3 linked regions of the Homo sapiens genome follow. The protein of the gene in region 2 purifies or fractionates together with the protein of the main gene of each other region. This does not show direct contact. Each region holds a gene or a part of one and is shown on either strand. Other genes may lie near its edges.

What was found.
Region 1: the proteins of SETSIP (region 2) and ZNF567 purify together in Homo sapiens (co-immunoprecipitation; one large-scale study listed by IntAct). This does not show direct contact.
Region 3: the proteins of SETSIP (region 2) and TSN fractionate together in Homo sapiens (co-fractionation; one large-scale study listed by BioGRID). This does not show direct contact.

Annotation. Positions count from the first base shown.
Region 1 is NC_000019.10:36,715,010-36,718,667, forward strand, and holds part of ZNF567 (zinc finger protein 567), read left to right. Parts: intron 1-3,658.
Region 2 is NC_000001.11:92,073,967-92,076,633, reverse strand, and holds SETSIP (protein SETSIP), read left to right. Parts: upstream 1-1,222; coding exon 1,223-2,101; downstream 2,102-2,667. UniProt on the Homo sapiens protein: Plays a role as a transcriptional activator involved in the early stage of somatic cell reprogramming. Promotes the differentiation of protein-induced pluripotent stem (PiPS) cells into endothelial cells and the formation of vascular-like tubes (in vitro).
Region 3 is NC_000002.12:121,758,507-121,762,164, forward strand, and holds part of TSN (translin), read left to right. Parts: intron 1-203; coding exon 204-300; intron 301-2,902; coding exon 2,903-3,018; intron 3,019-3,658. UniProt on the Homo sapiens protein: DNA-binding protein that specifically recognizes consensus sequences at the breakpoint junctions in chromosomal translocations, mostly involving immunoglobulin (Ig)/T-cell receptor gene segments.

The sequences.
Region 1 (3,658 bases), on a different chromosome or scaffold from region 2:
ACTGACGTCAACATACAAAGCACATTTCTCCTACCTTCACTCCAGTTCATCAGGCGTACTACAGTCTATCATCTCACCTATTTTCTGACAATGTGTCAGAAATGAAAATCACTGACTTTCTCAGCTCTTAAATTTTTCCCCACTATTTATTTATTTATTTATTATTTTTGAGATGGAGTCCTGCTGTGCCACCCAGGCTGGAGTGCAGTGGTTCAGTCTCGGCTCACTGCAAACTCCACCTCCTGGGTTCAAGTGATTCTCCTGCCTCAGCCTCTGGGGTAGCTGGGATTACAGGTGCCCACCACCATGCCCGGCTAATTTTTGTATTTTTAGTAGAGATGGGGTTTCACCATGTTGGCCAGGCTGGTCTCGAACTCCTGACCTCAGGTGATCCACCTGCCTCAGCCTCCCAAAGTGCTCAGATTACAGGCATGAGCCACCGTGCCTGGCCTCCCATTATTTAACTCAAAATAATAATAATAATAATAATAATAATAATAATTATTATTATTATTATTATTATTATTATTATTATTTGAGATGGAGTTTCGTTCTTGTTGCCCAGGCTGGAGTGCAATGGCTCGATCTCGACTCACCGCAACCTCCGGCTCCCAGGTTCAAGCAATTCTTCTGCCTCAGCCTCCTGGTTAGCTGGGATTACAGGCATGAGCCACCACACCCGGCTAATTTTGTATTTTTAGTAGAGATGGGGCTTCTCCATGTTGGTCAGGCTGGTCTTGAACTCCTGACCTCAGGCAATCTGCCCGTGTCAGCCTCCCAAAGTGCTGGGATTACAGGCCTGAGCCACCGTGCCCAATCCCTTCAAATTTATTTTGTTTCTACTACAAAGTCAACTTGATTTTTCTGTCTCTCTTATCATTTCTTATGGATCTCTTCACAATTTGTAATATGTTTATCAGCTTGTGAAATATATTGACATCCTCCCATATTCTGATTTCTCACTGATGTCATACAAAATGACAACTATCTTATTTCATGTATTTATTACTGGAATTACCATTTGTCTTTGTGGTAAATTTTGTCTGGATTCATTCAATGTATATTGTTACTTTCCTCACAAAATATACCATCAGTTTTTCCCTTTTTTTTTATCATTTATTCTATGAAATGGAAATTTCTCTTCTTTCAGGAACTGTCACAATAAGCCCTCATCTGGTCTTTTCAACTTTCTCTTGGAGAAAATTCTTGATAATTTCCACTTGATCTAGTCTCCTAATTGTTGTTCATGAATGTAGGGTTTGTCATCACATAGATACTTTTCATTGTGTTGTGTTCTCCCTTTATACTATATCTTTTAAGTCTCAAGATTTCTCTGTGAAATCTTCCTTGATTACTGCACATCATATCTACCTTCCTTTTTTTCTGAATTCCTGTCCTAACTACTGACTATAACACAAACATGCACAACTCTTGAATAGTCATATAATTTCATTCCTAATTGTTTTTGCTTAAGGATTTTTAAGGATGCTTAAGGATTCTTTCCCTCAAAAATAAGATCCCTTTTGAATCTTCATTTCTTTGAAGGAATCAAGCATTCTTAAGGATTCTTTTCCTCAAAGATAAGATCCCTTTTGAACCTTCATTACTGTGGTATTATTTAACATGTTAGGTATTCAGTAGTTACTGTGTTAATTGCTTATGGAGCTATGTAAGGGAGATATCTTTTCATCCATTCAGAAAGCATATACTAGCAAGTTCCTTTTAGATGTACCTACTCATGCTGTGTCCCTACAGATTGTGCTTGAAGTGGTTGCATTCTGCCAGACACCACCTAACTATGAGTATGCAGTGATCATGTAAAATTTTTTTTTTTAAGATGGAGTCTTGTTCTGTCGTCCAGGCTGGAGTGCAGTGGCACGATCTCAGCTCACTGTAAACTCTGCCTTCCGGGTTCAAGTAATGCTCCTGACTCAGCCTCTGGAGTAGCTGGGAGTACAGGTGCATGCCACCATGCCCGGCCAGCTTTTTTTGTATTTTTAGTAGGGACAGTTTCACCATGTTGGCCAGGCTGGTCTGGAACTCCTGACCTCAGGTGATCTGCCCGCTTCGGCTTGCCAAAGTGCTGGGATTACAGGCATGAGCAACCGTGCCCAGCCCAAAAGAGTTTAAAGATCACCAATAAAGTATTTATTTCTATGAAGAAGGATCACTATCGAGTCTGCATTTTTCATGAAATATTTATGTCAAAGTGTAAGGTTGTTAAAAGATTTGTTAACAGAGTTTTCCTAGGCAATAATTATATTGCAAATTTTAAAGAAGTAGAGCTTAAAATGGTAGGGGAAACATATGAAGGGTTTATGAGATCATGGAATGGTATGATTTCTTTGAAGATTCTCTAAAGATAAATAGAAATAAACCTGGAAGGCAAGCTAATTAATTAAAAGAATGTGTGCACAAGTGTGTTATTAGGAATAAGTAAGGTATATATAGGGCAGTAAGTATCAGGCCTGACTGAGGCAAAAACTACCTGTTATAAACAGGTGAGATCTGTCAGGTATGTGGACAACCCTGAAAACTTGTGAGAATATAAAAAATGAATCTAGACAATATAGTTTTGTTTACAGGAGAAATTCCTTGTATATGTTAGAATTGAAGTTCTTGGACTCAATGAAGAAATAGATTTTTGAGCATAGCTTTAACATTGCTTCATCAGATATAGATGATTGCAAGGTAAGTAAAGTTAGAAATAGCTATACTTTTATAAGAGAAATGAAGGTTAAAGTTACTCTGATTTAGGACCAGATTGTTCAATCTACCATTTGAAATTGGTATTCTGATCTACCATATGAAAAACTGGAATAAAGGAATGTTACTGCATTGGGGAAGGATGTAAGCCAGTCTTAAACCTGGAAAAGTGAGTCAGTAACTGAAAAGAGGACTAGGCATGAGAGCTTTGTTATTGAACAATTCTGAAAGAAGTGATTTAGCAGCAGTCTGAATATAGCAATTGAATATATTCTGATCTTTTTTAAAGTTGCTATCGGAAGTATTTTCCTAATTTTCCATTCATAAGAGAAAATAATACATAATTATGTAGAGGATTAGAGCATAGACTGTAGAAAATGAATTGATAATTTAAAAGCTAAATTAATCAATGTTGACTACATAGAAAGAGGAGGTGGGTTGAACAGCTGGAAGTGTTTTACCACAGTCATCTAGGGATGTGTGTATAAAAGTATTGGTGATCAGCCGGGCACAGTGGCTCATACCTGTAATCCCAGCATTTTGGGAGGCCAAGGTGGGCAGATCATGAGGTCAGGAGTTCGAGACCAACCTGGCCAGCATGGTGAAACCCCGTCTCTACTAAAAATACAAAAAATTAGCTAGGCGTGGTGGCACATGCCTGTAATCCCAGCTATTCAGGAGGCTGAGGCAGGAGAATCGCTTGAACCCAGGAGGCAGAGGTTGCAGTGAGCCGAGATCACGCCACTGCACTCCAGCCTGGGTGACAAAGCGAGACTTTGTCTCAAAAAAAAATAATAATAATTATTATAGGTGATCTGTGTCCTCCAGAAGTAATCTTTCCTCTAGTATTTTCGCTAAACAAAGATTTCTGCTAATTTTTCTTGTCCATCCTACTTACATTTTAATGCTTTTGATAGGTTCACTTCATTTTTTCTGAACACTTATCTAACCA
Region 2 (2,667 bases):
CAGCCTAGGCAGCATAGCAAGGCCTCGTCTCTACTTACTTACTTACTAAATAAATAAATAAATAAATAAATAAATAAATAAATAAATAAATAAAATTAAAGCCAGGTGTGGTGGCACATGCCTGTAGTCCTCGCTACTCAGGAGGCTGAGGTGGAAGGATCGCCTAAACCAGGGGTTAGAGGCTGCAGTGAGCCGTGATCGTGCCACTGCACTTCAGCCTGAGTGACAGAGTGAGACCCTGTTTCAAAACAAAAAATGAAAGTTTTAATATGAAAAATTTCAAATCCCAGCTACTCGAGGTTGAGGCAGGAGAATTGCTTGAACCTGGCAGGCAGAGTTTGCAGTGAGCCGAGATGGCGCCACTGCACTTGAGTCTGGGCGACAGAGGGAGACTCCATCTCAATAAATTTTTTTAAAAAAGCAAAAAGCTTTTCAGAGAGAGCAAGAGAGCTTGTTATGTTTTCCAGGCTGACCTTGAACTCCTGGGCTCAAGTGATCTTCCTGTCTCAACCTCCTGAGTAGTTGGAACTATAGGCATGTGCCACCATGCCCAGCTGAGTGGTGTTTTTTTGTGTTTGTTTTTGTTTTTTGTTTTTAAGAACTATATATAAAAATTCGCTGACCATGGTGGTTCACACCTGTAATCCCAGCACTTTGGAAGGCCAAGGTGGGCAGATCACCTGAGGTCCGGAGTTCGAGACCTGCCTGGCCAACATGGTGAAACTCTGTCTCTTCTGAAAATACAAAATTAGCTGGGCGTGGTGGTGCAGGCCTGTAATCCTAGCTACTCGGGAGGCTGAGGCAGGAGAATTGCTTGAACCTGGGAGGTGGAGGTCGCAGTGAGCCGATTATCAACCTACTGCACTCTAGCCTGGGTGACAAGAGTGAAACTGCATCTCAAAAAAAAAGAAAAAAGAACTATATATAAAAATTTAATGGATAAGACAGCTAAATATAAAAAGTGAAACTACATACTACTAGAAATAAAGTGGGTAAATTCCTTTATTACCTTGGAAAAAAGAATGCATGTGTATATGTATGTGTGTATTCCATATATTCCATGTACTCAGATGACCCCTTCTTAAACATAAGGTAACATGCATACTATATTTAGTATTCTGCATCTTATTTTTCCTCATTTAACAGTACATCCTACAGTGTTCTGCCTGCTTCCAGACGAGCAAGGAGACTCATGGTCTGGTTCTTGGACTTCCCTAACAGCATGGCCCCTAAACGCCAGTCTCCACTCCCACTTCAAAAGAAGAAACCAAGACCACCTCCTGCTCTGGGACTGGAGGAGACATCGGCCTCTGCAGGCTTGCCGAAGAAGGGAGAAAAAGAACAGCAAGAAGCAATTGAACACATTGATGAAGTACAAAATGAAATAGACAGACTTAATGAACAAGACAGTGAGGAGATTTTGAAAGTAGAACAGAAATATAACAAACTCCGCCAACCATTTTTTCAGAAGAGGTCAGAATTGATCGCCAAAATCCCAAATTTTGGGGTAACAACATTTGTCAACCATCCACAAGTGTCTTCACTGCTTGGGGAGGAGGACGAAGAGGCACTGCATTATTTGACTAAAGTTGAAGTGACAGAATTTGAAGATATTAAATCAGGTTACAGAATAGATTTTTATTTTGATGAAAATCCTTACTTTGAAAATAAAGTTTTCTCCAAAGAATTTCATCTGAATGAGAGTGGTGATCCATCTTCAAAGTCCACCAAAATCAAATGGAAATCTGGAAAGGATGTGACGAAACGTTCAAGTCAAACGCAGAATAAAGCCAGCAGGAAGAGGCAGCATGAGGAACCAGAGAGCTTCTTTACCTGGTTTACTGATCATTCTGATGCAGGTGCTGATGAGTTAGAAGAGGTCATCAAAGATGATATTTGGCCAAACCCATTACAGTATTACTTGGTTCCTGATATGGATGATGAAGAAGGAGGAGAAGATGATGATGATGATGATGATGATGGTGATGAAGGGGAGGAAGAATTAGAAGATATTGATGAAGGGGATGAGGATGAAGGTGAAGAAGATGAAGATGATGATGAAGGGGAGGAAGGAGAGGAGGATGAAGGAGAAGATGACTAATAGAACACTGATGGACTCCAACCTTCCTTTTTTAAAATTTTCTCCAGCCCTGGGAGCAAGTTGCAGTCTTTTTTTTTTTCTCTTGTGCTCAGTCACCCTGTTCTTCAGCTCTCTTTTCTCTACTCCATGGTTCTCAACTTATTTGGGGGGAAATACCTTGAGCAGAATACAATGGGAAAAGAGTCTCTACCCTTTTCTGTTCGAAGTTCATTTTTATCCCTTCCTGTCTGAACAAAAACTGTATGGAATCAACACCACCGAGCTCTGTGGGGAAAAAGAAAAACCTGCTCCCTTCGCTCTGCTGGAAGCTGGAGGATGCTAGGCCCCTGTATAGTAGTGCATAGAATTCTAGCTTTTTTCCTCCTTTCTCTGTATATTGGGTTCAGAGAGTACACTGTGTCTCTATGTAGGTCAAAGGGACAATATGGACAGTTAGCATTTACCAACACATATCTGTCTACTTTCTCGTGTTTAAAAAAAGAAAAAAAACTTAAAAAAATGGGGTTATAGAAGGTCAGCAAAGTGTGGATTTGAGATGTTTGGGTGGGTTAAGTGGGCATTTTGAC
Region 3 (3,658 bases), on a different chromosome or scaffold from region 2:
GCAAGTTGTTTATTTTTCAGTATAGCTAATTAGTAGGGAAACTGGGGATGATATTTTGAAAGCCAGGTTGAAAAGCACAGATGTGTACGTTAGTTGTGAGGTTTTTTTGTTGATTAATTTCCAGATAGATTACTTAGATTATTAAGCAAGAACTGTATTTGAAATTTGGTTAAGTTTTTCATTTGGTTATCTTTTGTGACTAGTTCCAAAGAGGTGTTTGAAAGCTCGAGAACATTTTGGTACAGTAAAAACACATCTAACATCTTTGAAGACCAAATTTCCTGCTGAACAGTATTACAGGTTTGTAAGAAAAATAGCATTATTTTATAATGTTAAGTAAAAAAAAGGAGAAAAATTATGTGTACCAAATGATTGCTTACAACTAGGCAAACATCCTGTGTAGAAGTAACAAAAAGAGAAAAAACCGAACTAATAATGGTCATGACAAAAATTGGTGATTTTATTTTTTTCTTCTTTTTACTGTCTAAATCTTAAGGAACATGTATTACTTTTGCAGTGAAAAAGCAATTAAAAAGAAAATGTGGTATGAGGGTCAAAAGTGAGAATATCTTTTTGCTATATTCAAGTTTCTTGTGAAATTGGATGAACTATAGTTAGTGAAATAATGAGATTAGGTGGCAGTATATATATGGAGTCGAGTTTTACTTTGAAGCTTGAATTTCACTGCCAAGTGATGTAATTAGCTAATATTTTATGCCATGTTTTCTTATTAAAATCAACACTGTTGATTTTAAGATACACCATTATTTTATGTACCAGTAGGGAAGGAAAATTTTGCCAGTCATAAATGTGAAACATGGGCCAGGCGTGGTGGCTCACACCTGTAATCCTAGCACTTTGGGAGGCCTAGGTGGGCAGATCACCTGAGGTCAGGAGTTTGAGACAGCCTGGCTAGCATGGCGAAACCCCGTCTCTACTAAAAATACGAAAATTAGCCAGGTGTGGTGGCTTATCCCTGTAACCCCAGCCACTTCAGAGGCTGAGGCAGGAGAATCGCTTGAACCAGGCAGGCGGAGGTTGCAGTGAGCCAAGATTGTGCCATTGCACTCCAGCCTGGGCAACAGAGTGAGACTCCATCTAAAAAAAAAAAACAACTTGTGAAACATGGATTGTGAAATGTCTCCTGGTTTCATAGGTGTTAAACTGGGAAAAACTGCACCTGAATCAAAAGTTTCTACTTATTTTAATTTTCTTACTGAAAAAGATGTTCTTTTAAGACGTATATATCAGCAGTAAATAGGATGAGTATTTTCAGGGGGTGGGTAGTATAACCTTATGAGAATATTCTTTTAAGGGAGAGGTTGACAAACCACTAGTGGCTGCTGCCTCTGGGAGCTAAGAATTGCTTTTGTTTTTTCAAGAGTTGTTAAAAAAAAGAAAATCCCAGATAAGAATATGTAACAGTGAAAGCGTCCCACAAAGCCTAAAATATTTACTACTTGGCCCTTTACAGAAAACATTTGCTGATCCTTGCTGTAAGGCAGGGGTTCCCAACCCCCAGGCCATGGACTGGTACTGGTCTGTGGCCTGTTAGGAACTGGGATGCACAGAAGGAGGTGAGCGGTAGGTGAGCGAGTGAAGCTTCATCTGTATTTACAGCCGCTTCCCATCACTTGCAGTACTGCCTGAGCTCCACCTCCTGTCAGATTGGTGGCAGCATTCGATTCTCATAGTAGTGCGAACCCTATTGTGGACTGTGCATGCGAGGGATCTAGGTTGCATGCTCCTTATGAGAATCTAATACCTGATGATCTGAAGTGGAACAGTTTCATCCTGAAACCATCCGCCCCCCTTCTGTGGAAAAATTGTCTTCCATGAAACCAGTCCCTGGTGTTGAAAAGGTCAGGGACTGCTGTTGTAATAGCTGAAGCACAGAGAGAGGTAGGACAGTAGAACAGGTGGGGTCTTTAGAGACCATCTTCTCTGGAGGTCACACACAGGCTGCCCTCTGGCTGGATTTGGCCTTCAGAAGGGTTTGTGTGACCTGCATTATGTTGAGACCTTTTTTTTGAATGTATTGCCACATTTGAGAATCAGGAGGCATTGCATAAATATCCACAGGTTGTAAAATTTCCTTTTTTCAGGCTTCTAGCTCAGTATTCTATTTTAAGTGCATTTGTTTAGTGATTGCAAATGGTAATTTTGTGAATCAGAATTTTCTTGGTATTCTGCACTCAAATCAAAATGGAGGAATACGTTGAGGATGATACATAACTGCAGTTGTCTTCAATCATCAGTTACAAATTTTTATTTTTTTCAGAGCAGTATCACTGTTCTTACTGATTAAATTTAGAAGGCACAATTGCTCTTGTCATCTGTAATCTTCAGTTTTCTTTTTTCTGTCTTTTTTTTTTTTTTTTTGAGACGGAGTGTCGCTCTGTCGTTCAGGGTGGAGTGCAGTGGTGTGATCTTGCGCACTGCAACCTCTGCCTCCCAGGTTCAAGCAGTTCTCCTGCCTCAGCCTCCCGAGTAGCTGGGACTATGGGCGCCTGCCACCACGCCTGGCTAATTTTTGTATTTTTAGTAGAGAGGGGGTTTTGCCATGTTGGCCAGGCTGGTCTTGAACTCCTTACCTCAGATTGATCAACCTGCCTCTGCTTCTCAAAGTGCTGGGATTACAGGCGTGAGCCATCGCACCCGGCGTAAATTTTCATACTCATCAAAATTAGACCATATTTGTCACTGATTAAACTTAATTGTTATAAATTCGAACTTGTAAAATTAATGCTAAATGTCATATTTCTCTTTATATATTGGGGGTTTGTGTAAGATTTTATTTGAAAAATGATCGCATTTCTAAACCGTTTGAACATGGCTGTATTAAACCCATCTTTCTGAAGGTCCCTAACCTTGGAGGCTAAATGTGCTTATTTTCATGCAGATTTCATGAGCACTGGAGGTTTGTGTTGCAGCGCTTGGTCTTCTTGGCAGCATTTGTTGTGTATTTGGAAACAGAAACACTAGTGACTCGAGAAGCAGTTACAGAAATTCTTGGCAGTAAGTGTCTTTATTAGTGGGATCTGCAGAATCAGGCATGGTTGCTTACTTTTTGGTGGAAAGGGTGGTTGTACTTTGTTTATTAAAACAAACAAGAATTAACTAAAAACCACTTATAGTTGTAGCTTGGTATCTGAGGATGATGCTTCCAGAGCTCTTCCAATACCCAAATCTGAGGATGTTCAAGTCCCTTATATAACTGGTGTAGTATTTGCATATAACCTATACACATTCTCCCACATACTTTAAATCATCTCTAGATTTCTTAAAATATCTAATACAGTATAAGTGCTATGTAAATATTTTTTTTTTTTTGAGACAGAGTCTCTGTCGCCCAGGCTGGAGTGCAGTGGTGCAATCTCCGCTCACTGCAACCTCCACCTCCCAGGTTCAAGTGATTCTCCTGCCTCAGCCTCCCGAGTAGCTGGGATTACAGGTGCCTGCCACTATGCCCAGCTAATTTTTTGTATTTTTTTTTTTTTTCCGAAATGGAGTTTTGCTCTTGTTGCCCAGGCTGTAGTGCAATGACGCAATCTCAGCTCACCACAACCTCCACCTCCTGGGTTCAAGCATTTCTCCTACCTCAGCCTCCTGAGTAGCTGGAATTACAGGCATGCACCACCACACCCGGCTAATTTTG